5 separate regions of the Homo sapiens genome follow, and regions 1, 2, 3 and 4 are each linked to region 5. Evidence: fine-mapped expression QTL. A gene starts in region 5. Each other region holds a variant in brackets. All regions are shown on one strand. Distances are from middle to middle. Region 1 overlaps CAMKK2 (calcium/calmodulin dependent protein kinase kinase 2). Region 2 overlaps ANAPC5 (anaphase promoting complex subunit 5). Region 3 overlaps P2RX4 (purinergic receptor P2X 4). Region 4 overlaps P2RX4 (purinergic receptor P2X 4). Region 5 holds the start of CAMKK2 (calcium/calmodulin dependent protein kinase kinase 2).

The links.
Region 1: its variant is fine-mapped to the expression of CAMKK2 in blood mononuclear cells (TOPMed, PIP 0.95).
Region 2: its variant is fine-mapped to the expression of CAMKK2 in whole blood (TOPMed, PIP 0.99).
Region 3: its variant is fine-mapped to the expression of CAMKK2 in monocytes (Fairfax 2014, PIP 0.95).
Region 4: its variant is fine-mapped to the expression of CAMKK2 in sun-exposed skin (GTEx, PIP above 0.99).

Annotation. Positions count from the first base shown.
Region 1 is chr12:121,240,602-121,245,752 of GRCh38, forward strand. It overlaps CAMKK2 (calcium/calmodulin dependent protein kinase kinase 2), which reads right to left. Exons shown (of 17, transcript NM_001270485.2): 15 at 4,539-4,639; 16 at 3,972-4,014; 17 at 1-268. The coding sequence ends at 98. Among named protein-coding and RNA genes, the nearest start is that of P2RX4, 33 kb to the left of the region's middle. RefSeq lists a silencer at 165-244. The variant A/G (reference allele first, on the strand shown) is at 2,734.
Region 2 is chr12:121,337,832-121,342,831 of GRCh38, forward strand. It overlaps ANAPC5 (anaphase promoting complex subunit 5), which reads right to left. Exons shown (of 17, transcript NM_016237.5): 5 at 4,172-4,238. Among named protein-coding and RNA genes, the nearest start is that of ANAPC5, 12 kb to the right of the region's middle. The variant G/A (reference allele first, on the strand shown) is at 2,210.
Region 3 is chr12:121,217,627-121,222,714 of GRCh38, forward strand. It overlaps P2RX4 (purinergic receptor P2X 4), which reads left to right. Exons shown (of 12, transcript NM_002560.3): 3 at 4,287-4,358; 4 at 4,468-4,540. Among named protein-coding and RNA genes, the nearest start is that of P2RX4, 10 kb to the left of the region's middle. The variant TA/T (reference allele first, on the strand shown) is at 1,992.
Region 4 is chr12:121,231,788-121,236,938 of GRCh38, forward strand. P2RX4 (purinergic receptor P2X 4) reads left to right here. Exons shown (of 12, transcript NM_002560.3): 9 at 627-720; 10 at 824-889; 11 at 1,210-1,305; 12 at 1,736-2,319. The coding sequence ends at 1,762. Among named protein-coding and RNA genes, the nearest start is that of P2RX4, 24 kb to the left of the region's middle. RefSeq lists an enhancer at 1,955-2,582. The variant T/C (reference allele first, on the strand shown) is at 2,721.
Region 5 is chr12:121,293,782-121,298,875 of GRCh38, forward strand. CAMKK2 (calcium/calmodulin dependent protein kinase kinase 2) reads right to left here and starts at 2,928. Exons shown (of 17, transcript NM_001270485.2): 1 at 2,857-2,928. RefSeq lists a silencer at 2,464-3,613.

The DNA.
Region 1 (5,151 bases), 53 kb before region 5:
GTGCTGGGTTTCCGTAGGACATGCTGCTATGGAAACGCGGTGCAGCAGCCCCCCAGAGGCGACGCGGCGCGCATGCGAGGTCGAGCGATCCAGGCAGCTACTCGGGCTCCATGGCCTCCTCCGGCCGCAGTGGATGCATGCGTGCGGGGGAGCCGGGGGCGGGGGCCCAGCAACTTTCCACGCAGGGACTGCCTCTCACAAGAGCACTTCCTCCTCCCCCACGGGGGGCGGGTCGGTGCCCTGGAGGTTGTCTTCGCTGCCTTGCTTCCTGCTCACCGAACAGAAAACCAACATTAAGACTCTGAGAAATGCCAGCGAGGCCCTGAGCCAGCTGCTCCCACATCTGGGCCCCCTGCCCAAGTGGGCCGTCGCGCACCCCCTGGAACGTGATCTACGTAACCCAGTCTTTGAGATCCTCTCCCCTTTTCCTTGCTCACATAAATTTTTCAAAGGAGACTTTGCACGCAGCCCCTCTGTAAATGAAAGACCAGCATCATTTGCCAAAAATAGCAAGGACCCGTACAACAGTTCCAAAACTATGTAACACCAAAATTCACTGCACAAATCCCAAGTAGAAGGCACCCCCCACCCCACGGCGCCTGTCATACCAGGTTTTTAGGTACTTCGATCCCCCACTTAGGCTATGAGCCCTTACAGGGAAGGGACTGTGACGCTTGTCCTCAGTCACCAGATGTTGAGTTCCTTGTGTGTGGGGGTGATCAGAGCCTCCCCTGCCTGGCCTGGCACACAGCTGGCCCTCAAGAAAGGGCAGATGACAACTGCTCCAGGGATCCTCCCGCCTCAGCCCTCCTGCAGCCAGCCCTGAGGGAGGAGCACCTCAGACAGAAGAGGAGGCCCCTTCCCTCTTGGAAGTGGGAGGAGGAGAGCCCTTGTTTCCCTGAAGAGCCCAGGCTGGAGCCGCCGGTGTGACAGCGTGGATGGCGTGACAGGTGCGAGGGGAATCCCCGAGCCTATCCCCTCACCACCATCACACAGCTCCCCTGTTCTTAGGGAGGTCACTGGGCATGCCACATGGGTTACTGTCTGTCCTTCCCCCACAACAATCCGTGTCTCCTGTCCAGGAGGGAGACTGTCCTTACACAAGGGAAAGGAAGCGTGATGTCTGGCTTGCTATGTTTCTGATGGAGAATGTGGGTAAGGTCCCTGGGGAGGGGGGCGCTGTAACTAGACGTTAGGTCAGGCCCTCAGTCTCTGCCCTCGCAGTTGCCTGTTGGTAGGGGTTGGGTCTTACTGCAGACGGCAGGCAGGCCCCCAGTCCAAGACCCCCAGTGCCTGAATCAGCTCTGTGAGCTCCCATGACCAAGGCATCCTACCTGCTGGGGGCTGAGGGCAGGGGATCCCAGGTGAAGAAAGGAAGGGGCAGCATAGCCCTTTGGGGCCAGTCTCCATCTGCTGGTGTCTTGCAATTTTGATCTCATTGAAACGAAGGCCGGGCACAGTGGCTCATGCCTGTAATCCCAGTACTTTGGGAGGCTGAGGCAGGCAGATCACCCGAGGTCAGGAGTTCAAGACCAGCCTGGCCAACATGGTGAAACCCCCATCTCTACTAAAAAAATACAAAAATTAGCTGGGCATGGTGGCACATGTCTGTAAACCCAGCTACTCAGGAAGCTGAGGCAGGAGAATCGCTTGAGCCTAGGAGGCAGAGGTTGCAGTGAGCCGAGATCACACCACTACACTCCAACACTCCAACCTGGGCAACAGTGCAAGACCCTGTCTCAAAAAAAAAAAAGAAAGAAAGAAAGAAAGAAAGAAAATAGGAAAGAAACCAACAGCAGACTTGCTCAGAGACAGGAGGCAGCCCCGGTTTGGCAAACCCTAAAATGGAGATTGAGAGGAGGAAGGCCGAGGAAAGGCCAGCCCGCTGGGTTTCCACTCCATCATCCGTGAGGCTCACACCCAAGGCGGGGCTGCCCAGGCGTCTGTCTGGGCACAAGCTGGGGACTGTGTCTGCCTTCTGAGACTGCTGAAGACCGGTTCTGAAGGACTGCCATTTTCCCTGCTCTATGCTGGAGGGCAAGGTTTCTCTCAAAAGCATAAATAATTCCCAAACAGGTGTTCCTCCTAGATTACCATATAAGCCCTGACTCCCACGGGATGGGTGGCCAATCCATTTCTTTTTCTTTTCTTTTTTTTTTGAGACGGAGTCTCGCTCTGTCGCCCAGGCTGGAGTGCTGTGGCGCAATCTCGGCTCACTGCAAGCTCCGCCTCCCGGGTTCACGCCATTCTCCTGCCTCAGCCTCCCGAGTAGCTGGGACTACAGGCGCCCGCCACCGCGCCCGGCTAATTTTTTGTATTTTTAGTAGAGACGGGGTTTCACTGTGTTAGCCAGGATGGTCTCGATCTCCTGACCTCGTCATTCGCCTGCCTTGGCCTCCCAAAGCGCTGGGATTACAGGCGTGAGCCACCGCGCCCAGCCTTTTTTTTTGAGACAGATTTTTGCTCTTGTTGCCCAGGCTGGAGTGCAATGACGTGATCTCAGCTCACCGCAACCTCCACCTCCTGGGTTCAAGTGATTCTCCTGCCTCACCTCCCGAGTAGCTGGGACTACAAGTGTGCGCCACCATGCCCGGCTAATATTTGTATTTTTAGTAGAGACGGGGTTTCACCATATTGGCCAGGCTGGTCTCAAACTCCTGACCTCATGATCCACCTGCCTCGGCCTCCCAAAGTGCTGGGATTACAGGCGTGAGCCACTGCATCCAGCCTGCT[A/G]GTCAATCCATTTCATCTCGTAAGCCAACTCCTAACACTTTGTACACAAATGTTCATAGCATCAGTCTTCATTCGATAGCCAAAAGGTGGAGACAAGTCCATCCACAGAGGAATGGATGAACAAAGTGAGGTGCATCCAAACAATGGAATCTTATTTGGCCATGAAAAGGAATGAAGCACTAATACATGTAGAGCATGGATGAACCTTGAAAACATGATGCTGAGAGAAAGAAGCCAGACACAGAAGGCCACGTAGTGTATGACGCCATTTATACGAAACGTCCAGAATAGGCAAATCCATACCTATTCTGAGTGGTTACTGGGGTGGGGGAGTTGGATGGGGACAGCTAAGGAGTGTAGGGTGTCTTCTTGGGCTGATGAAAATGTCGTAAAGTTGACGGTGGTAATGGCTGCAGAAGTCTGTATTAGAAACCACTGAATCATACACTTCCCGTGGGTGAATTACATGGTATGTGAATTGTACCTCAGTAAAGCTATGTTTAAGAAACAGAAGTGACTGCCTGGAGCTCCCACCAAGTCAGGTAGCCATGATGTGCTCAGTGGGAAGGGCAGTGGGGTCCCCACCCACCACAGCACCTGCAGCAGGGGTGCCCAGCAGGTTCTCCCAGTCTCATAAGGACACAAAGCCTCATCTGTCCTGGGAGGTTCTGGTCACCTGGGCTGGCTATGTGTATGAAGGAAGGGTGGCTGACAGCAAGAAGGTCTGCATCCACTCGGGTGAGGGAACTCTTACGTTACTTTGCAACAGGCAGGAAGGGGACTTATTTTCTAGGTCTAAACACATCAAAGAAAGAGAAGTGGAGGCTGGAGAGCCCCTAGCGAAGAGCCACACAGTGCAGCATGCCTGACCTATGTGCTGACCATGCGGACTCGGGGGGGCACCCATGGGCCCTGTGACAGAGCTTCAACACCATTGACGTGCACTGAGAAGACATGGGTGCCACACAGGATCTTCAGACCTGGGTGCATTCTCAGGCATTCCAGCTGGAGCGCCATGCACCCGCAGCCCCAGCCCACATGCATGACCCACCATTGGGTCCAAGCCCCCGAGGCCCCTCATTCTAATACTGGGTCTGGAGGCCCGCGGTGAGCCGGGCCACAGCAGCCCAGGCTGGAAGGAGCATCTGCCCGGGTGGGGATGCCCCCGTGCTCTGCAGCTGCCCACCCGCCCCCCTCAGGCCCCAGCAGAGGCTACGGCACAGGCAGGCGGGCGTTACCTTGAGCTCAGACAGGGACTCACATTCCCTGGTTGGTTTTTTGCTGGAATCACCAGAGGGAGGGAAAAGGGAAGTGAGAAGGGACCCTTGGGATCCACGGGATGCCCGTTCCCCCACCCTGAGACACTCAGACCCCAAACACCAGCTTCATAGAGCTGGAGCCAGGGTGGCGTTGACAGCAGATGAGTGGACACCTCTCTGCATGGACACACAGGGTCCTGAGTGAGACCACACTGCTCGCCCAGCACAGAGCCTCAAACCTCCCCATCAGGCACTCACGGTCCCGGGCCACAAAAGTGCTTTTCTTCTGACTGACCAAGAGCCCCCCAGCTACAGTGCAAGTTCCCGAGAAAGGTAAACTTCAGGTGGATTAGCTGTCAGCAAAAGGAGGTGGGCTGAGCCCAGGTTGGGGTGCTGACTGTCCCAGTGCACCAGGTGGGTTTCATCTGAGTCTCTCCAGATGGCACCACTTCAGGGAGGACCTGTGCAGAGTGGTCTGGGCAGGGCTGCCCCAAGCCTAGCCTCCAGCCACCACTCCCCCACCCAAGAAGGCAGGCGGCCACTCACGTGAGCAAGTTTCCAGGCGCTGACAGTGAGCGTTCCTCCCGCCGGCTGCCCTCGAATGGGTTCCCAAAGGAGCGTTTACGTATCATGGTCTTCACCAGGATCTGAAGAGGGAGAAAAGAGGAGGTGGCAGGCAACTGCTTGGCCATGTGGGGGCGATTCTGGGCAACATCCTCCCTCTTCCTTCTCCCCAGCCCCTGCCAGCTCCCAGGGCTGGTGACCGATGGCAGACTTTGAGAGAAACTGGGCAGCACCACCCCGCAACCAACCCCCGCCGAAAGAATCCTCTGGGAAAAGGTGCTGTCCTGCACCACACCCTCAGCCACTGCTCAGCGTCTCTCCCAGGCCTCCCTGCTTTCCACCTCCCTCCCTCCCATCCCTTCCAAAACCCAGATCTGGTCCCCTCACTCCCTGACTCAGCATCCCCACCCAGAGGGGTCTGGAACTTGGCCTGTGGTCAGCCAGAGAGCCCCGGAAAGTTCTGGAGCAAGGACGTGAACCAGTCATTCTTGGTGATGCTCTTGGCTGCCATTTCCCATGAAGGGAATGGCCTGAGGGCCCCATAAGAGTCACTGGGCCCCTCACCCCACCCCAACCAGGGCACGGTGCCCCTTCA
Region 2 (5,000 bases), 44 kb after region 5:
CCCCACCCCAGACTGTAAGCTCCTTCCAGGCAGGTAATGTGTTTGCTTCTTGTATTTCCAGTGCCTGTATGGGGCCTTATGGGAGCCAGGTGGCTTGCCCCAGCTCTACTTATTTGTTTCATATGGACGATATCAGCAACAATTATATAAAATATGTAGAAAGTTAGCTACAAATTAAATGTTTACATTTAACTGGGTTATAGACACTTAACTCCAATTTTACCTAGATGAGTTTTTCTATAAGTAAAATAATTTCTAAGGGCAGGGTGTGGTGGTTGATGCCTGTAATCCCAGCACTTTGGGAGGCAGAGGCTGAGGCATGAGTATCGCTTGAGCCCAGGAGTTCAAGAACAACCTGGGCAATATACTGAGACCTCATCTCTATTTAAAAATAATAATTTCTTTAAAAAAAATTTTTTTAAAGTAAAAATAATTTCTAATTCCATTGTTAATTTATGTCATTATAGAAAATTATTGGCCAGGCGTGGTGGCTCACACCTGTAATCCCAGCACTTTGGGAGGCCGAGGAGGGCAGATCATGAGGTCAGGAGTTGGAGACCAGCCTGGCCAACATAGTGAAACCCTGTCTCTACTAAAGATACAAAACATTAGCCGGGTGTGGTGGCGCACACCTGTAATCCTAGCTACTCGGGAGGCTGAGGCAGGAGAATCACTTGAACTCGGGAGGCAGAGATTACAGTGAGCCGAAATCACGCCACTGCACTCCAGCCTGGGTGACAGGGCAAGACTCAGTCTCAAAAAAACAAAACAAAACAAAACAAAAAACAAATTATTATGTAGGTGTAGTATGGGGAAAAATTATTCCAAAAATATAGAAAACCTACAGAAGAAAACAAAAATCTTCTGCAATCTCACTACCCAGAAATAACGCTATTAATACTTTAGTGTATATTATCCTAGTCTTTGTTCTGTATGTGTGTATATATGTTACATATCATATTCTGATTTTGTTAAAAATATGTGTATACATATTATATAAATTTACAATATACCCTGTATTGTAAACATATATTGTGTATACATTACATTTTTAACAAAATCACAATATATGTTTATAATACAGGGTGTATTCCAAATTTATATAATGTGTATATACACATTATATTTTTAACAAAATCAGAATATGATATGTAACTTTATTTCCTGTTCTTTTCATTTTATATTGTAAACTTTGTCTCATCATCAAATATGACTTTTTTTTCTTTTTTTTTTTTTTTTTTGAGACAGAGTCTTGCTCTGTCGCCAAGGCTGGAGTGCAGTGGCACAATCTTGGCTCACTGCAACCTCCACCTCTCAGGTTCAAGTGATTCTTCTTGAATCCCAAGTAGCTGGGATTACAAGCATCCACCATCACATCTGGCTAATTTTTTGTATTTTCAGTAGAGACAGTGCTTCTCCATGTTGGCCAGGGTGGTCTCAAACTCCTGACCTCAGGTGATCCACCTGCCTCTGCCTCCCAAAGTGCTGGGATTATAGGCATGAGCCACTGTGCCCGGCCTGAAAATGTGATTTCTAAACCAAAACCAAAATCTAAACTTTCACTGTCATATTTATTGTAAATACTTTTTCCCAAAGTATTGGAGCCCAAGAACACCTTTGTTATTTGCCTTTTAATTTTTTAATTTTATTTCTTTTTGAGAAGGAGTCTCGCTCTGTCGCACAAGCTGAAGTACAGTGGCGAAATCTTGGCTCACTGCAAACTCCGCCTCATGGGTTCAAGCGATTCTTCTGCTTCAGCCTCCCAAGTAGCTGGGACGACAGGCACATGCCACCACATCAGCTAGTTTTTGTGTTTTAATAGAGACGGGGTTTCACCATGTTGGTCAGGCTGGTCTCGAACTCCTGACCTCAAATGATCCACCCGCCTTGGCCTTCCAGATTGCTGGGATTACAGGCATGAGCTGCCACGCCCATCCTGTTTGCCTGTTAATTATGTTAAAACAAGTCCTGACATGGAGATGCTTTCAATTTTTATTCTGAAAATCAAATTATCTTCTCCTACATGTTTTCTTCCAGTTTTTTTTTTTTTTTTTTTTTTTCCCAGATGGAGTGTCGTTCTTGTGGCCCAGGCTGGAGTGCAGTGGTGTGATCTCGGCTCACTGTAACCTCCACTCCCCAGGTTCAAGCGATTCTCCTGCCTCAGCCTCTGAAGTATTCCATAGCTTTTATGTTAGAAAGCTCTGGCCAG[G/A]CGCAGTGGCTCACGCCTGTAATCCCAGCACTTTGGGACGCCGAGGTGGGCAGATCACCTGAGGTCAGGTGTTTGAGACCAGCCTGCCCAACATGGCAAAATCCCGTCTCTACTAAAAACACAAAAAATTAGGCAGCTGTGGTGGCAGGCACCTCTAATCCCAGCTACTTAGGAGGCTGAGGCAGGAGAATCGCTTGAACCCGGGAGGCAGAGGTTGCAGTGAGCTGAGATCACCACCGCACTCCAGCCTGGGCAACAAAAGCAAAACTCCATCTCAAAAAAAAAAAAAAAACCAACAATGTGTAGCTCATTCTAGCCTAATTATCTAACTAAAGCTGTAAATATTTACATTTAACCCTGTAATCCATCTGTAATATACTGAGGTACAAGGTAAGGTAAGGAAGGATCCAGCTGTACTTTTTCCTTACAGTTAACCAATCACATAGACAGGTTTTTCTAATCTGTTTGAAATTCATCTGCAGAGGTAATTCCGTAAATTTTTTTTTTTTTTTTTGAGACGGAGTCTCACTTTGTCACCCAGGCCAGAGTGCAGTAGCGCAATCTTGGCTCACTGCAACCTCCGCTCACCGCAACCTCCACCTCCCGGGTTCAAGCGATTCTCCTGCCTCAGCCTCCCGAGTAGCTGGGATTACAGACGGGCATCACCACACCCGGCTAATTTTTGTGTGTGTGTTTTTTTTAGCAGAAACAGGGTTTCACCATGTTGGTCAGGCTGCTCTCAAACACCTGACCTTGTGATCCGCCTGCCTCAGCCTCCCAAAGTGCTGGGATTACAGGCGTGAGCCACCATGCCCAGCCTCCATCACTTTTGTCTAGATATAAACATTACATCTTTCTGCAGAAAGCTCATAACAAAATTAGGGAAAAGTAGAAAAATAGAGCAAAAACTAAAAATTCTATGCTGAAAATAACACAGAAAAATGTTCAGATTATGTTTCCAAGAAAATGAAAAAATATGGCTGAAAAGCATCCATAAGAAATGTTTGGGCTGGGCGTGGTGGCTCACACCTGTAATCCCAGCACTTCGGGAGGCAGAGGTGTCGGTGAGCTGAGATTATGCCACTGCACTCCAGCCTCAGTGACAGAGTGAGACTCCGTCTCAAAAAAAAGAAACAAAAAAGAAATGTTTGGGGCACGCTGGTTCATGTCTGTAATCCCAGCACTTTGGGAAGCCAAGGCAGGTGGATCACCTTAGATCGAGAGTTCAAGACCAGCCTGGCCAATGTGGTGAAACCCCATCTCTACTAAAGATACAAAAATTAGCCAAGTGTGGTGGTGCACGCCTGTAATCCCAGCTATTTGGGAGTCTGATGCATAAGAATAGCTTTAACCCAGGAGGCAGAGGTAGCAGGGACCCGAGATCATGCCACTGCACTCCAGCCTGGGCAATGCTCTAGCCTGGGCAACAGAGTAAGACTCTGTCTCAAAAACAACAAAAAAAGAGAGAAGTGTTTGGAGCAAAGTGTATTAATATCTGCAACTGGAAATATATATCAAAAAATAAGATGAAATGGTGGCTGAATAGAGAGTGGTTAGATAAGTAATAAATAGAACAAAAATATTAATTGTAGAATCGAGGTAATAGGTATGGGTAATTACCATACACTGCTTTTCAGGCTCTCTTTATGTTTGCAAATGTCTATAATAAAATGTTGAGAGAAGGGTTAAATCACAGGGTTTTAGGCTGTTAGTCACATACCATTACTAAATGAAACCTGGATTATAACTTTAATAGAAAAATAAAATCACACACAAAATAGGAAGGGGCACAGAGCTACAAGTGCTTCGTTAGTGAGGCAGAGGGGACCAAGAGTAAAGGCTGACACAGACTGACCAACAAACCTATGCACATAACGGGCCTATGCCACAACACACATCACAGGACTAGACACATCACAGGACTAGAACAGAAGTTCATGATAAATTACAGAATTCACATACCTGTTGAGAAAGAAAAAATTCTGCTTGTTTTTGGGACAGAGGCCCACTGCAAGATACCTCCTCTTCTCTGGAAAAAATAAAAAAACAAAAATAGTAAAGAATTACACAAAAGTAAAAATGATAACATTTATAAAATCAGATGGATTCTTGTATCGAAAGAGTTCAAAAAATTTAACTCTCTCCTCAGAACTAGGAAAGAAAAACATAAAAAGTGATGTTGAGATCAATGCACAGAGCCCATAAAGAAGCCCTGGCATGCATGGTCAAATGGTTTTTGGCAACAGTGCCAAGACCATTTGATAGGGAAAGGACAGCCTTTCCAACCAATGATGCTGGGAAAACTGCACATCCACATGCAAAAGCATGAAGGTGGATCCTTATCTAACACCATATTCAAAAATTAACTCACAAGGACTCAAAGACCTCAATGTGAGGCCAAGGACTCAAAGACCTCAATGTGAGGCCAAAAACCGTAAAACTCTTAGAAGATCTTCCTTCCACCTGCTAGTAATAAAAAATAAATAATACATTTTTAAATAAAAAAAATTAAAAACTCTTAGAAGAAAACATCGAGGAGGCCAAGCGCGGTGGCTCACACCTGTAATCCCAGCACTTTGGGAGGCCAAGGCAGGTGGATCACAAGGTCAAGAGATCAAGACCATCCTGACCAACATGGTGAAAACCTGTCTCTACTAAAATACAAAAAATTAGCCAAGTGTGGTAGTGCGTGCCTGTAGTCCCAGCTACTCAGGAGGCTGAGGCAGAAAAATTGTTTGATCCCGGGAGGTGGAGGTTGCAGCGAGCCAAGATCACGCCACTGCACTCCAGC
Region 3 (5,088 bases), 76 kb before region 5:
ACAGTGTAAAAACTTTAGGCCGGGCACAGTAGCTCACGTGTGTAATCCCAGCACTTTGGGAGGCTGGGGCGGGCAGATACCTTGAGCCCAGGAGTTTGAGACCAGCCTGGGCAATGTGGTGAAACCCCATCTCTATAAAAAAAAAAAAAAAGAAAAAAAAAGAAAAGAATTAGAGACCATTAGAGACCAAAACCCAAACAAGAAGGAAACAGAGACAGCAGCACAGGACTCCATCGGGAGCGAAAGGAAGGGAAGACATTGTTTACTGCTGCATACTAGTCTTCAGGCTGTTAATCTGCAAAGCTCCAAGTTAAACATTGACTCTTTAGTCCTGGTAACAGCTCTGCACCACACAGTCAAACCCGACATAGCCCTCCAGATGGCCTATGTGCTAAGGGACCGAGGGCGACCAGTAGAGATAAGCTGCCAACTCTTGGCTCAGAGCTCTTGCCAGGGAAAACAAGAACTCCAGAAACTCTTTCTTCAGGTGTGTTCTTCCCCCTGCCTTCTCAAGAGAAGGGTCTTGTGGGGTCCCCAGAGAGGAGACCGAGCTAATGAGCCATAAAAGTCAGGAGGAAGGGCCAGGTGCGGTGGCTCATGCCTGTAATCCCAGCACTTTGGGAGGCCGAGGTCGGTGTATCATGAGGTCAAGAGATTGAGACCATCCTGGCTAACATGGTGAAACCCTGTCTACTAAAAATACAAAAATTAGTGGGGTGTGGTGGTGGGTGCCTGTAGTCCCAGCTACTAGGGAGGCTGAGGCAGGAGAATCTCTTGAACCTGGGAGGCGGAGGTTGTAGTGAGCCGAGATAGTGCCACTGCACTCCAGCCTGGTGACAGAGCAAGACTCCGTCTCAAAAAAAAAGATCAAGTGGAACAGGGGATTTGCAGTTGGCTGGAGGGGGCAGTCCTGTTAGCATGTACCTGTCTCAGCAGAGAGACGGTTGCCTCCTGTGCAGGCATAGCCTTGTCCCGGTGAGCTCTGGGAATGTCATGCTCGGTGTGTTTACTGGGCAGATGAGGAAGGGCACAAGCCCCGCTTTTGTCCCTTGGTGGAAAGGAGCACCCCACAACTCAGCCTTCCGTGGTGGATCTGGGCGGGGGCCGTGTGAGTTCCCCAGGGCTTTCCTCATGAGCTTTCACGACGTCTGTGTTCTTTGTAGATGGAACACAGTCATCTATTTGCAGCCCCTTGGCTCATCTCCAGACTGAAATTACCCTTAATTTGAAGTAGATAAGTGATAGGAAACAGGCCAGATGTGGTGGTTCATGCCTGTAATCTCAACACTTTTGGAGGCCGAGGCAGAAGGATCACTTGAGCCCAGGAGTTTGAGGCTGAAGTGAACTGTGATCACGCCACTGCACTCCAGCTAGGGCAACAGAGCAAGACCCCAACTCTAAAAGAGAGAGAAAGAAGGAGAGATAGGAAACGAAAAGTAGACCATACTGGATTGTTCCAAGTATAACTCAGGAGAGTCGTAGGAGCGGCCTTCTCTAACACCAAATGCAGAGTGTGTTTGTACATTGAACACCTGGGAACGTGACAGGTGGCGGGAGAGAGGCTGCAGCTCATGCCACATCCTCACGCCTCCTCCTGTGGCCTTCTCCTTGTCTCCCAACATAGTTTGCCCTAGGCCTTTGGAGGACGCCAGCTATTTCTAGAGCTTCCACCACTTGTCAGACCGTGGGGTTGGGGATGTCTACAGACTGGTTGGTTTCTGAGTTGCCCTGATCCCCAAGATGGCTCCCACTACTGACTGTTATCCTCAGGAGTGTGAAATGCTAAAAGCTTTGGGCATCTCCTTTTAAAATGCCTGGGCCCAGCCAGGCGCAGTGGCTTACGCCTGTAGTCCCAGCACTTTTGGAGGCCAAGGCAGGAGGATCACTTGAGCTCAGGATTCAAGACCAGCCTGGGCAATATAGTGAGACCCCATCTTGATTGGATGGGTGGTGGATGGATGGATGGATGGATGGATGGATGGATGGATGGA[TA/T]GATAGATAGATAGATAGATAGATAGATAGATAGATAGATGGAAAGAAAGAAAGAATAGATAAATGATAGGATAGGAGAAAGAAAGGGAAAGAAAGAAAAGAGAAGAGAAAAGAAAGAAAAGGGATAGGATAGATGACAGATGATAGGATAGATTAGATAGGTGATAGATAATCGATAAATAGAAAACAGATGATAGATATAGGATAGATTAGATAGATAGATAGATAGATAGATAGATAGATAGACAGATAATAGATAGATTAGATTAGATGGATGGACACCAGCCCCCAATGAGAGGAGGATCCAACTAGAATCTTTTGGGGTCTTTGCCTTTTATTCCTTATATGAGGAGGTCATTATCAGCAATTCTTCAGTCTCATCCCTAGCAAATTGCTTTCCAGAAACTCTAAATCAATTATTTGGCACCTTTATACATATAAGGAGGAAACAGAACCTTTTCAAAGAGAAATGTCACTTGCTGACCCTGACCGAGTCTTCTCTAGAATGTTTGATTTATAATTTCAGTTAGGAAAGAAAACCAGCCAGATTTGAGCCCCATGAGGCCTCATGTTTTTATTCCTCTGAGATAATCTGGTTGGCAGGGAATGTTTTTAGCACTTGTTGGCTCTTTCCCTCAGTAAGTCAAGTTTGATTGAGAAACCATTGTTTCAGTTTGCAGACCCCCCCCTTTTTTTAACTGCAGTCAAATTCACTTATAGAAACTAACCATTTTAAGTCGGGCACAGTGGCTCATGCTTGTAATCCCAGCACTTTGGGAGGCTGAGGCAGGTAGATCACTTGAGGCCAGGAGTTGGAGACCAGCCTAGCCAACATGGTGAAATCCTATCTCTACTAAAGATACAAAAATTAGCCAGGTGTGGTGATGTACACCTGTAGTCCCAGCTACTCAGGAGGGTGAGGCTGGAGAATCGCTTGAACCCAGGAGGCGGAGATTGCAGTAAGCCAAGATCGTGCCACTGCCCTGCAGCCTGGGCGACAGAGCAAGGCTCTGTCTCAAATAAATAAATAAATAAGAAAGAAATTAACCATTTTAAAATGAAAAATTCAGCACATTTAGTGCATTCACAGTGTTATGCAAGCATCACCTCTATCTAGTTCAAAACATTTCCATCACCCCAAAGGGAAGCCTCGTATGTTACACAACCACTCCCCATTCCCCACTTCTCTCACTCCCTGGCAACCCGTAAGTGCTTTGTCTCTATGGACTTGACTGTTCTGGAAATTTCACATCAATGTAATGGTATCCTGTGTGGCCTTTGTGTCTGGCTTCTTTCACTCAGCATCATGTTTTTGGGGTTCATCCATGTTGTAGCCTGTATCAGTGCTTTATTCCTTTATTTTATTTTTTGAGATGAAATCTCACTCTGTCACCCAGGCTGGAGTGCACTGGCGTGATCTCGGCTCACTGCAACCTCCACCTCCCAGGTTCCAGTGATTCTCCTGGCTCAGCCCCCTGAGTAGCTGGGATTACAGGTGCCCGCCACCACACCCGGCTCCTTTTGTGTGTGCGTGTGTCTGTGTGTGTTTGTGTGTGTGTGTGTGTGTGTGTGTGTGTGTTTTTAGTACAAAGTTTCACCATGTTGGCCAGGCTAATCTGGAATTCTTGACCTCAGGTGATCCTCCTGCCTCAGCCTCCCAAAGTGCTGGAATTACAGGTGTGAGCCACCATGCCTGGACCCTTCATTCCTTTTTATTCATGGCTGAATCACATTCCATCATGTGACTAGACTAGGACAGACATTTGGGCTGTTTCCACCATTTTTTTTTTTTTTTTGAGACAGAGTCTCGTGTCATCCAGGCTGGAGTGCAGTGGCGCGATGTCGGCTCGCTGCAACCTCCGACTCCCGGGTTCAAGCAATTCTCCTGCCTCAGCCTCCCAAGTAGCTGGGACTACAGGTGCCCGCCATCACACCCGGCTAATTTTTGTATTTTTAGTAGAGACGGGGGTTTCACTGTGTTGACCAGGCTGGTCTTGAACTCCTGACCTCGTGATCCGCCCGCCTCAGCCTCCCAAAGTGCTGGGATTACAGGCTTGAGCCACCGCGCCCGACCTGTTTCCACCTTTTGGCTCTTGTGAAAAGTGTTGCTCTGAATATTTATGTACAAGGACTTGTTTGAGTCACTGTTTTCCATTGGGTTATAAACTTTGATGGGAGAGAGCGGGAGAGCACGCGGTCAGTGTTTGAGTTGTCCTCTTCAGTCAGCGTCTGCCTTTCTTGGCTCTCCGTGAGTCCTCTGAGCGTGGCTTGCCCGTGCTGTCTCCCCTCTGCAGGAGGAAAACTCCCTCTTCGTCATGACCAACGTGATCCTCACCATGAACCAGACACAGGGCCTGTGCCCCGAGGTAGGAGGCCCCCGGGAAGAGCCCCAGGCCCCACACCCCTCTCCACGCCTGTCCACCTGTGTGTGGGGCCGGGCCACGTGGACTTTCTTTTCGCTCCTTCTTTTTCCAGATTCCAGATGCGACCACTGTGTGTAAATCAGATGCCAGCTGTACTGCCGGCTCTGCCGGCACCCACAGCAACGGTACGAGCTTGTGGCCTCCTGGGGAGGGCGGCCCCTGAGCAGATCGCCCCCACTGTGGAGCGTCTCTGATAGAGAAATCTTCCCAATTCCTTCACATGACCCTGGGTGAGCCAGGTGCCGAGGCTGGGGTCCTGGAGCCCCTCTACATTCACTGCTGTCATTGGAGCCCCACAAGCCATCCCAGCTCTTGCCCTACTGTTTTTTTTTTTGTTGTTGTTGTTGTTTTTTCTTGTTTTTTTTTTTGTTTTGTTTTTTTGTTTTTTTGAGCCAGAGTCTCGCTCTGTCACCCAAACTGGAGTGCAATGGCATGATCTCGGCTCACTGCAACCTCCACCTCCCAGTTTCAAACAATTCTCCTGCCTCAGCCTCCCGAGTAGCTGGGATTACAGGCATGCACCACCACGCCCAGCTAATTTTTGTACTTTTGGTAGAGATGGGTTTTACCATGTTGGCCAGGCTGGTCTCGAACTCCTGACCTCAGGTGATCCACCCGCCTCAGCCTCCCAAAGTGCTAGGATTACAGGCATGACCCACTGTGCCTGGCCTCT
Region 4 (5,151 bases), 62 kb before region 5:
TAGGTCAAGAGATTGAGACCATCATGGCCAACTTGGTGAAACCCCGTCTCTACTAAAAAATCCAAAAATTAGCTGGGCATGGTGGTGTGCGCCTGTAGTCCCAGCTACTCGGGAGGCTGAGGCAGAAGAATTGCTTGAACTGGGGAGGTGGAGGTTGCAGTGAGCCAAGATTGGTGCCCCTACACTCCAGCCTGGCAACAGAGGGAGACTCCATCTCAAAAAAAAAAAAAAAAAAAGTCCCTGCACTGATGCTGTGTTGGGGCTGGCTTAGTCCCCTCCTGCAATGCTGGCTGGTCACATTCTTACTGTTAGATGTTGGAGGTCAGGGTCCCTTGAGGGAGGCAGGCAGGATGTACCAGGTGGGATGTTGAGAGCAAACTGTTCAGGTTCAGGAGAGGACACTGGTGCTGGAGGAGGAGGTCTCCCTGTGCCCCTGTACCTCGTGGGCCCCGCATCCTCCTGCTTGCACAGCCCGCCTCAGCCAGGAGAGGCCCCGAGCCGCTCCAGCGTCCATTCAGCCGGCAGAGTGGACCATTCACCTGTGCCAGCTCCACTCTAACGTTCTCTCACAGGGCCCAAGGTCCTGCCCCAGCCATCTCCCCCTGATCCATCCTCCTTCCCCTCAGGTTTGCCAAGTACTACAGAGACCTGGCTGGCAACGAGCAGCGCACGCTCATCAAGGCCTATGGCATCCGCTTCGACATCATTGTGTTTGGGAAGGTAGCTCGCCGCCACTGGCTCCCCTCCGTCACTCCCTGCAGGGACAAGGGGCCTCTCCCTGCCCCTGCAGAAACACTTTTTTTCTTTTTCGGTGTCTTGGCAGGCAGGGAAATTTGACATCATCCCCACTATGATCAACATCGGCTCTGGCCTGGCACTGCTAGGCATGGTGAGTGGTTTAGGCCCTGCCTTCACCCTCACGGTGAGGTGAGACCCTGGGCTGGGGTCCTGGTCCTGGCCCTAGGCCCTAGACCTCAGATGTGTTTCTAAACTTGACCCTCCTACCTTCTTTCCCTTGGCCCCCAGCCCTCCTCCCACCTTCCCTTCTCCAAGACCACCCCCCTCAGGTCCCAGCCTTCTCCCAAGAGATGGGAGTGCCTTTCCATTCCGGTAAAGATTCCAGGCTTCTCAGGAAGGGGCACGCAAAGAATAAGATGGGTTGATGGGTTGCAAGCATCCTGGCTCACTCTCACCCTATGCTAAACTCAGGCGACCGTGCTGTGTGACATCATAGTCCTCTACTGCATGAAGAAAAGACTCTACTATCGGGAGAAGAAATATAAATATGTGGAAGATTACGAGCAGGTAGGCCCCTCCTGGCCCCCAGCAGGCACAGGCCTCTCATCTCTTGGGTGTGGGAGCCCTGGGCGTGGGCCTGTCTGGGGAGGCCCTTCTGCAGAGGCTGGCACCAGTGTGGCGTGGTGTCCCCGTTAACCCGGGCAGTCCTGCCACTCTCAGCAGCTGCTCCATCCCTAGGCCCCTGTACTAGATTGACTCTTTAAACCCAGCCTCGTTTCAATGAGCGACATCTCAGGTTGGTGATGATAATGCATGCTCTGAGAATGCCTGTGGGCACACACTACTTCAGTGCACCTTGCGGAACAGGAAGGGTTGGGTTCCAGGCCTGGGACCAACTTGAGAACCCCTGGCGGTGAAGTCCCAGGAGCGCACCTCCCTCCCGCCTGCCACAAGGGGTCCCAGGGGCACCTTGATCTGCTTGTGTCCTTCTTTGCAGGGTCTTGCTAGTGAGCTGGACCAGTGAGGCCTACCCCACACCTGGGCTCTCCACAGCCCCATCAAAGAACAGAGAGGAGGAGGAGGGAGAAATGGCCACCACATCACCCCAGAGAAATTTCTGGAATCTGATTGAGTCTCCACTCCACAAGCACTCAGGGTTCCCCAGCAGCTCCTGTGTGTTGTGTGCAGGATCTGTTTGCCCACTCGGCCCAGGAGGTCAGCAGTCTGTTCTTGGCTGGGTCAACTCTGCTTTTCCCGCAACCTGGGGTTGTCGGGGGAGCGCTGGCCCGACGCAGTGGCACTGCTGTGGCTTTCAGGGCTGGAGCTGGCTTTGCTCAGAAGCCTCCTGTCTCCAGCTCTCTCCAGGACAGGCCCAGTCCTCTGAGGCACGGCGGCTCTGTTCAAGCACTTTATGCGGCAGGGGAGGCCGCCTGGCTGCAGTCACTAGACTTGTAGCAGGCCTGGGCTGCAGGCTTCCCCCCGACCATTCCCTGCAGCCATGCGGCAGAGCTGGCATTTCTCCTCAGAGAAGCGCTGTGCTAAGGTGATCGAGGACCAGACATTAAAGCGTGATTTTCTTAATCCCTGTCTGTTGTCTCATAGCATGTGCTAGAACTTTCCTTCCTACCCTTTTACGACAACCAGTAAATCCACTATTCCGGCTCACTGTGCTCAGAAAAGGTCCATGGGATGGTCTGTTTCTGGCACTTATGCACATTTTCCCCTACTTCTTTATTTATTTATTTTATTTTTGAGGCAGAGTCTCACTCTGTCGCCCAGGCTGGAGCGCAGTGGTGCAATCTCGGCTCATTGCAACCTCTGCCTCCCGGGTTCAAGCGATTCTCCTGCCTCAGCCTCCCGAGTAGCTGGGATTACAGGTGCATGCCACCATGCCCGGCTAATTTTTGTATTTTTAGTAGAGACAGGGTTTCACCACATTGGCCAGCCAGGCTGGTCTCGAACTCCTGACCTCAAATGATCCA[T/C]CTGCCTTAGCCTCTCAAAGTGATTGGATTACAGGTGTGCGCCACCACACCTGGCCTATTTATTTTTTTTATTACCCAGGCTGGAGTGCAGTGGCGCAATCACTGCTCACTGCAGTCTCCACCTCCTGGGCTTAAGCGATCCTCCTACCTCAGCCTCCCATAGTGCTGGGATTACAAGCATGAGCCACTGCACCCAGCTGCCTACTTTTTAAAGCCTAATAATTTGTCATTAGCTTGTCTTCCTGCACAGTTCACAGGACACTTTTTCTCTAGTGACATCTTACCTGTGCCTCCATTTTGACATAAAATTACAATTCTATGCTGTGGGTAACACAATTTTTGGTAACATGGAAGTGGCTTCCTCTCCCTTCCCTGTTTGCTTCCCAAAAGTCTCCAACCAAAAGCAGCAGCACGCATACCTAGCTCCGCACAGGTTCGAAATGTTCATGAAGCTATTTCCAGCTGCAGCTTCACACCAACTAAATGTTTGTGTTTTTTTGTTTTTGAGACAGAGTCTTGCCCTATTGCCCAGGCTGGAGTGCAGTGGCATGATCTCGGCTCACTGCAACCTCTGCCTCCTGGGTTCAAGCAATTCTCCTGCCTCAGCCTCCCAAGTAGCTGGGATTACAGGCATCTGCCACCACACCCAGCTAATTTTTGTATTTTTAGTAGAGACAGAGGTTCACCATGTTGGCCAGGCTGGTCTGGAACTCCTGACCTCATGATCCACCGCCTCAGCCTCCCAAAGTGCTGGGATTACAGGCGTGAGCCACTGCACCCAGCCACACACCAGCTGAATTCTGCATCAGGTATTCAGAATCCCCCTAGAGGAAGCAGTTTGCCCTTCGCCTCTGCCATGAATTCACTTCCAAGTACTGAGAGGAACCATTATTTTACAAATACTCTGCTTCTGCTGGATAAATGGCCAACCTGGGCTTTTCTTGCTTTTGGAAAAAAAAAAAAAAGTTTACCAACTCCCTTTATTGAAGCTCTGGTTCATGCTGCCTTTTAAAAAAAAATGCTTGTTGCCTGTAATCCCAGGACTTTGGGAGGCCAAGGTGGATCACTTAAGCGTAGGCATTCAAGACCAGCCCAGTCAACATGGTGAGACCCTATCTCTACAAAAAATTAAATTAGCCGGGTGTGGCGGTATATATCTGTAGTCCCAGCTACTTGGGTGGCTGAGGCCGGAGGATCACTTGAGCCCAGGAGGTTGAGGCTGCAGTGAGCTATGATGGTGCCACTGTACTCCAGCCTGGGCACCAAAGTGAGACCCTGTCTGAAAAAATAAAAAGTGCTTGCTTAGGCACATGGGTCAAATGAAGCTGGAATGTTTAGGAATGGTGATATGGGCTGAATGTGTCTACCAAAATTCACATTTTGGAAACTTCATCCCCAAGGCAACCTTATTGGGAGGTGAAGCCTTGGGGAGGTGACTGAGTCAGGATTGCGCTGCCCTCATGAATGGGGTTGGTGCCCTATACGAGGGCTAGAGAGGGAGCTCATCCCCCGTCTGCCTTGCCACTGTCTGCCACGCGAGGACAAGTGTTCCTCCCTCCAAAGGATGCGGCACCAAGGCACCCTCTTGGAAGCAGAGAGCAGCCCTCACCAGATACCAAACCTGCCAGCACCTTGATCTTGAACTTCCTGGCCTCCAGAAATGTGAGAAATCAATTATTGTTCTTTATAAATTACCCAGTCTTAGGTCCCTGTAACAGCAGCACAAAACAGACTTAAGGGCAATGGGTGTGTTTATGATCTTGCTCGTCAAGGAGTGATGGTCACTGGCTGTCTTCCGAAGTGGGGGAGATGCTGTTTAGCCTCTTTTCTAAAACAAATGTGAAAGCAAGCCAGTGTTGGGGTGAGGGGCGGGTGTGTTTCTAGATGCCATGAACACCAGCAGGAGGCTGGGTGTGGTGATGCGCGCCTGTCATCCCAGCACTTTGGGAGGCTGAGGCAGGAGGATTACTTGGTCCAAGAGTTTGAGACCAGCCTGGGCAACAGGTAGTGAGACCTCATCCCTACAAATAATTTAAAAATTAGCCAGGCATGGTGGTGCACATCTGTAGTCCCAGCAACTCGGGAGGCTGAGGTGGGAGGACTGCTTGAGTCCAGGAGTTTGAGACCAGGCCTGGGTAATATAGTGAGATTCTGTCTCTATAAAAAATTTAAGAATTATCTGGGTGTGGGGGCTGGTGTGGTGGTGGGCCCCTGTGGTCCCAGCTACTTTGGAACCCAAAGTGGATGGATCACTTAAGCCTGAGAGGTGGAGATTGCAGTGAGCCGAGACTGCCACTGCACTCCAGGCTGGGTGACAGAACGAGACCCTGTCTCAAAAAAGAAAACCAGAAGGGTTTTGCTGGCAAATTCTAACCCTTGGACAACTGACTTAACTTTCTGGAGCCTCACCTCACAGACGATGATCCATAAA
Region 5 (5,094 bases):
TTCAGGGAGCCTCCCAGATTCACACCAGTCTGAGGAGATTTCTCCAGAACCCTCAGTGCCCTGTGCTCCTTCGATCACAACAGCACTCATTCCTTGTGGTGTTTCTCAACAGTGGCACTGCTGGCATTTGGGGGAGGGTGATTTTTTTTTGTTTTTTGTTTGTTTTTTGAGAGGAAGTCTCCTTCTTGTGCCCCACGCTGGAGTGCAATGGCACGATCTCAGCACACTGCAACCTCCGCCTTCCAGGTTCAAGTGATTCTCCTGCCTCAGCCTCCCAAGTAGCTGGGATTACAGGTGTGTGCCACCACGCCCAGCTAATTTTTGTATTTTTAGTAGAGATGGGGTTTCACCATGTTGGCCAGGCTGGTCTCGAACTCCTGACCTCAGGTGATCCTCCTGCCTCGGCCTCCCAAAGTGCTGGGATTACAAGCGTGAGCCACCACGCCCAGCCAGGGGAGGGTGATTCTTTATGTCGTGGCCCTGGCCTGCCTACAGGACACTTTAGTAGGCATCCCTGACTCCCGCCCACTAAAAGCCAGGAGTGCTTAGCATCATTTTGACAACCAAAAGTCGCCCCCACACTTTCCCAAATCCCTGCCAGGAGGGTGGGACCACCCCCGGATGAGAACTAGTGCATTGTTATTAGTGACTATATTTAGCTACCAGCCCACTAGCCATATCTAAGGATGGGCAGTACTACAGACCCTGCATAGAGCTGCATCGGCAAACACTGATGTAGTGAATAAACAAAACAAAACAAACTCCTGGGCTCCTCAAGAAGCTCAGGGCAGCCTTGCCAGGGTCTCTGCTCTTGAACAGGTGCACAAAGGTTCTAAGGCCTGACATGCCTGCACTGGCTGTGTGACCCTGAGCAAGTTACTTAACTTCTCTGAGCCCTTCTATAAAATGGGGCTAAATCCTAGCAACACTGCAGGATTTCTGTAAACCTCAGTCTCCTAATCTCTACTATGGGGTTAAAATTCCCTACGTTGTAGGATTTGGTAGGCATTAAATGAGATAATGCATGTAACACATAGCACAGAATCTGGCAGGCAGCAAGAACTCAATAGATGTTAGTTTTTAATACTGTTATTATTATTATTGTCCAGGGCCAGGTGGCAGCTCATGCCTGTAATCCTAGCACTTGGGAGACTGACGTAGGCGGATCACTTGAGGTAAGGAGTTCAAGACCAGCCTGACCAACATGGTGAAACCCCTTCTCTACTAAAAATACAGAAATTAGCCAGGCATGGTGGTGGGCGCCTGTAATCCCAGCTACTGGAGAGGCTGAGGCATGAGAATCGCTTGAACCCGGGAGGCGGAGGTTGCAGTGAGCCAAGATTGTGCCACTGCACTCCACCCTGGGCAACAGAGACTCCGTCTCAAAATAAATAAATAAGTATTCTTATTATTATCCAAGTTAGGGGCTCATCAAATGATGGCTATTACTCTTCATTACAAAAATATGTTTTGCGTCCTCATCACCAATGCCTGCTTCCTCCATAGGAAGGGTGTGTGTCACCAATGCCTGCTTCCTCCATAGGAAGGGTGTATGAGCAGCAGTCTGGAAGGGGTATGTGGGGCTTGCCCTAAAGCTGCATTTGCATGGCATGCACACTATTTATTCTGAAACTGCATGTTTTTGTGGGGTGATTAGGGAAGAGGGTGGCTAACTCCCCCAAAGCCCTCCCCTTGTTGCAGCCCCCGCCTCCTCCAAGGAACAAAGGAGCTTATGGGGACATAAAGCCATCCTCTTCTCTCTCCTCTGGGGGCAGAGCTAGGGGAGGGGGAGTGGTAAATGGCAGCACAGCTCTAGGGCACCTGAAGTTTCTATCCCCTGCGTGGAGACTCCAAACACCAGGCTGGGGAAGGTAAAAGTAGCCTGTAGGGAGATGGACGCTGCAGGTCCCATCCGGAGGCCAGGTATCCCTCTCTTGCTGATAGCACTGAGACGCCCTCCCCAAAGCTCAGCCTTCTCGGGGAGATCGGAGGGGCTGAGCTGCATCCTGTCCAGCACTAAGTGAGAGTGGCCAGGAGGGCAGGCTGGCAGAGCTGTGAAAGCACCCACTTCCCCAGCTAGGCAGTGCAGGGGCTGGGGGAAAGCCAGGAAAAGCTCAAGGCTGGGTCGGGTGGCACCCCAGGCACAGAGCCCCAATGCTGAGAGGGGCTGGGTCCAGTGTCCCTGAGAGTCAGGCGGACGCCTCTCCGCATTCACAGCATACTGCAACCCCGAGGTGAATTTAGGTCAGAAGGACCAAGCCTGTGAGGCTCCGGCTGAGAGAAGAGGTGCGGTGGGGGTGGTCAAAGGGCAGACCGAAGACAGCCAAAGGTCCCCTAGGTCCCCACAACTGCTGGCCTAGGGTCCTGCCACCTGGTGTCCAAGCCACCAGGGCCTGGGTTTGCCCCGAGACAGGCAGGCTGCGGGGTGGGGGTGCTCCAAGTCCGCTGGTCCTCTCTTCCCCGGAACGCTCCAGATTTCCCCACCTGTCAAACGCGAGGGGCTGGGCCTAGGCCGCCTCCACGAACCCTGACGGACCCGGCCCCCGGTGACCCCGGTTCCAAACTCCAGGACCGCCCCTGCCACCCGGACAGGGCGCGGCCCAGCCGAGGAGGCCATCCCGAGGCCCAGGGCGCCCAGAGGACGCGGGGGAAGGGCTGTCGGGGACCGTGTCCCTCCACGTGGCGGGGCGTGGGGAGGCGCACGTGGGGTCCCTCCGTGTTGGGAGCCCCAGGCCAGCCTCCGGGCTTTGTGTGCCATGCCGGCGGCGGTCCCCCGCCTCGAGAGGGAAACGGAGCGGGCGCCCGGGGCCGCGGCGGCTGCGTCCCTTGCCCCGGGCCCGGCTACCGCCAGCTCACCTGGGCTCCGCGCCGCCGCCGCCTCCCGCGCTCTGCGCCCCCAGCTCGGCTCGGCTCGGCTCAGCTTGCTCTGCGCGGCCGCGCGCTCCTCTCCTCCGCCCGGGCGGCGGGCGCGCGGGGGGCGGGGGCGGGAGGAGCCGCCCGGCTCGGCTTGGGCGCGTCGCCGCCCCGGGCAGCGCGGGGATTGGCCACGGCGGCGGGAAACCCGAAAGCGGAACCGCCCGCGCCCGCCGCGCACCGCCCCCTGCGCGCCCCCGCCGGCTCGGCCCTGCGCCGGGGAGGGGTGGGGAGGCGGGAGCCTGCAAAGACGAAAGTAGCGAAGAGGCGAAGGGCAAGGAGCAGAAAGGGAGGAGGCGAAGAACGGGGGAAGAGAGGCCCGGCCGGGAGGATCGGAGGCGGCTGGGAGGAGAGCCTGGAGGGGCGCGGAGCGCAGGAGGTGGCGCCGCAACTTTGTACCCGCTCGCCCGCGGCGCGCACCTGCCCAGGTTCTTCCCGCGGCGCCCTCGGGCGGGCCGCGCCGGCAGCGCTTGCTTTGTTTAGCCAAATGCCGGGGCTGCAGGGCGCCTCCGGGCTGACCCTGGGAAAGTTCCCCCAAGCCGGCAAGAACACCCGGGGCCCCTCCTGTGGCGACCCGGCTGCTGCCCCTGCGCTAGGCGCCGGGCGGTGGATGCGGCCTGGACTTTGGGCCACCACCGACTCGGGGGAGCCCCCTTCCGCAGCTGCCTGCCGACTGACCACTTGCTCAGGGCCGGCCCTAAAGGCTGGGGGAAGGCGTTCCTCTCCCATCCCCAGCCCACCTGGATGCACCATTGAAGTTCATTCTGGCTTTTCCAGATGGCTACTTAGATGCTTTTTGTGAAATACAGCATATTCTTCCCATTCTCCCCTTTTTGGCACTTACTTTGCTGGAGCCTTAAGTGTGCGTTGGATCCCCCAGCTGGATAACAGCACTGTGCGGGGAAGAGGAGAAACGAAGACCTGGAGGGCTCCCTGAACCGTCCTACGGGGTCGAGCGACCCAGGGGATGTCTCACTGACCCTGCCAAACAGCCAAAAGGGAATCGAGTTGACAGGAGAGTCAACCTCCAAGTTAATAAAAGGTTCAAAGCCCTCTAGTTAACTGGGTGGATTTCCAGCCCGTTCCGATGTGCTTCTCTTGTATTTCTAGGCCGTAGGGACACTCACATGCAACGAGCCAATGAGAGCTCCACCCCGACTCCCTTTTTTTTTTTTTTTTTTTTCTTTTCTGAAACGGAGTCTCGCTCTGTCGCCCACGCTGGAGTGCAGTGACGCGATCTCGGATCACTGCAACCTCTGCCTCCCAGGTTCAAGCAGTTCTCTGCCTCAGTCTCCCGAGTAGCTGGGATTACAGGCGCCGGCCACCATACTTGGCTAATTTTTGTATTTTTCGTAGAGATGGGGTTTCACCATGTTGTCCAGGCTAATCTTGAATTCCTGACCTCGTGATCCACCCGCCTTGGCCTCCGAAAGTGCTGGGATTACAGGTGTGAGTCACCGCGCCCGGCCCACTCCCATTTTTTTTTCTTTGTTTTTTTTGTTTGTTTGTTTGTTTGTTTGTTTGTTTGTTTTGAGACAGGGTCTCTCTGTGTTGCCCAGGCTGGAGTGCAGTAGCACGATCACGGCTCGCTGCACCCTCGACCTCCCCAGGCTCAGGTGATCCTCCAGCCTCAGCCTCCTGAGTAGCTGGGACTACAGGCACACACCACCACACCTGGCTAATTTTTTCTATTTTTTGTAGAGACAGAGTTCTCCCTATGTTGCCCAGGCTGGTCTCAAACTCCTGGGCTCAAGTGATCCTCCTGCCTCTGCCTCCCAAAGTGCTGGGATTATAGGCATGAGCCAACATGCTCGGCCATCCACCTCTTCTGATGTTACTCAACGTGCATGCATTTGCTGGAAATGGCAAAAACCTGAGGCCGGGCATGGTGGCTCACGCCTATGATCCCAGCACTTTGGGAGGCCCGGGCGGAGAGATCACTTGAGGCCAGAAGTTCGAGACTAGCCTGGCCAGCATGGTGAAACCCCATCTCTATCAAAAATACAAAAATTAGCCCGGTGTGGTGGCGGTGCCCGTAATCCCAGCTACTCAGGAGGCTGAAGCACGAGAACCACTTGAACCGGGAGGCAGAGAGATCGCACCACTACCCTCCAGCCTGGACGACAGACCAAGACTGTTTCAAAAAAAAAAAAAAAAGTCTGGGCACAGTGGCTCACGCCT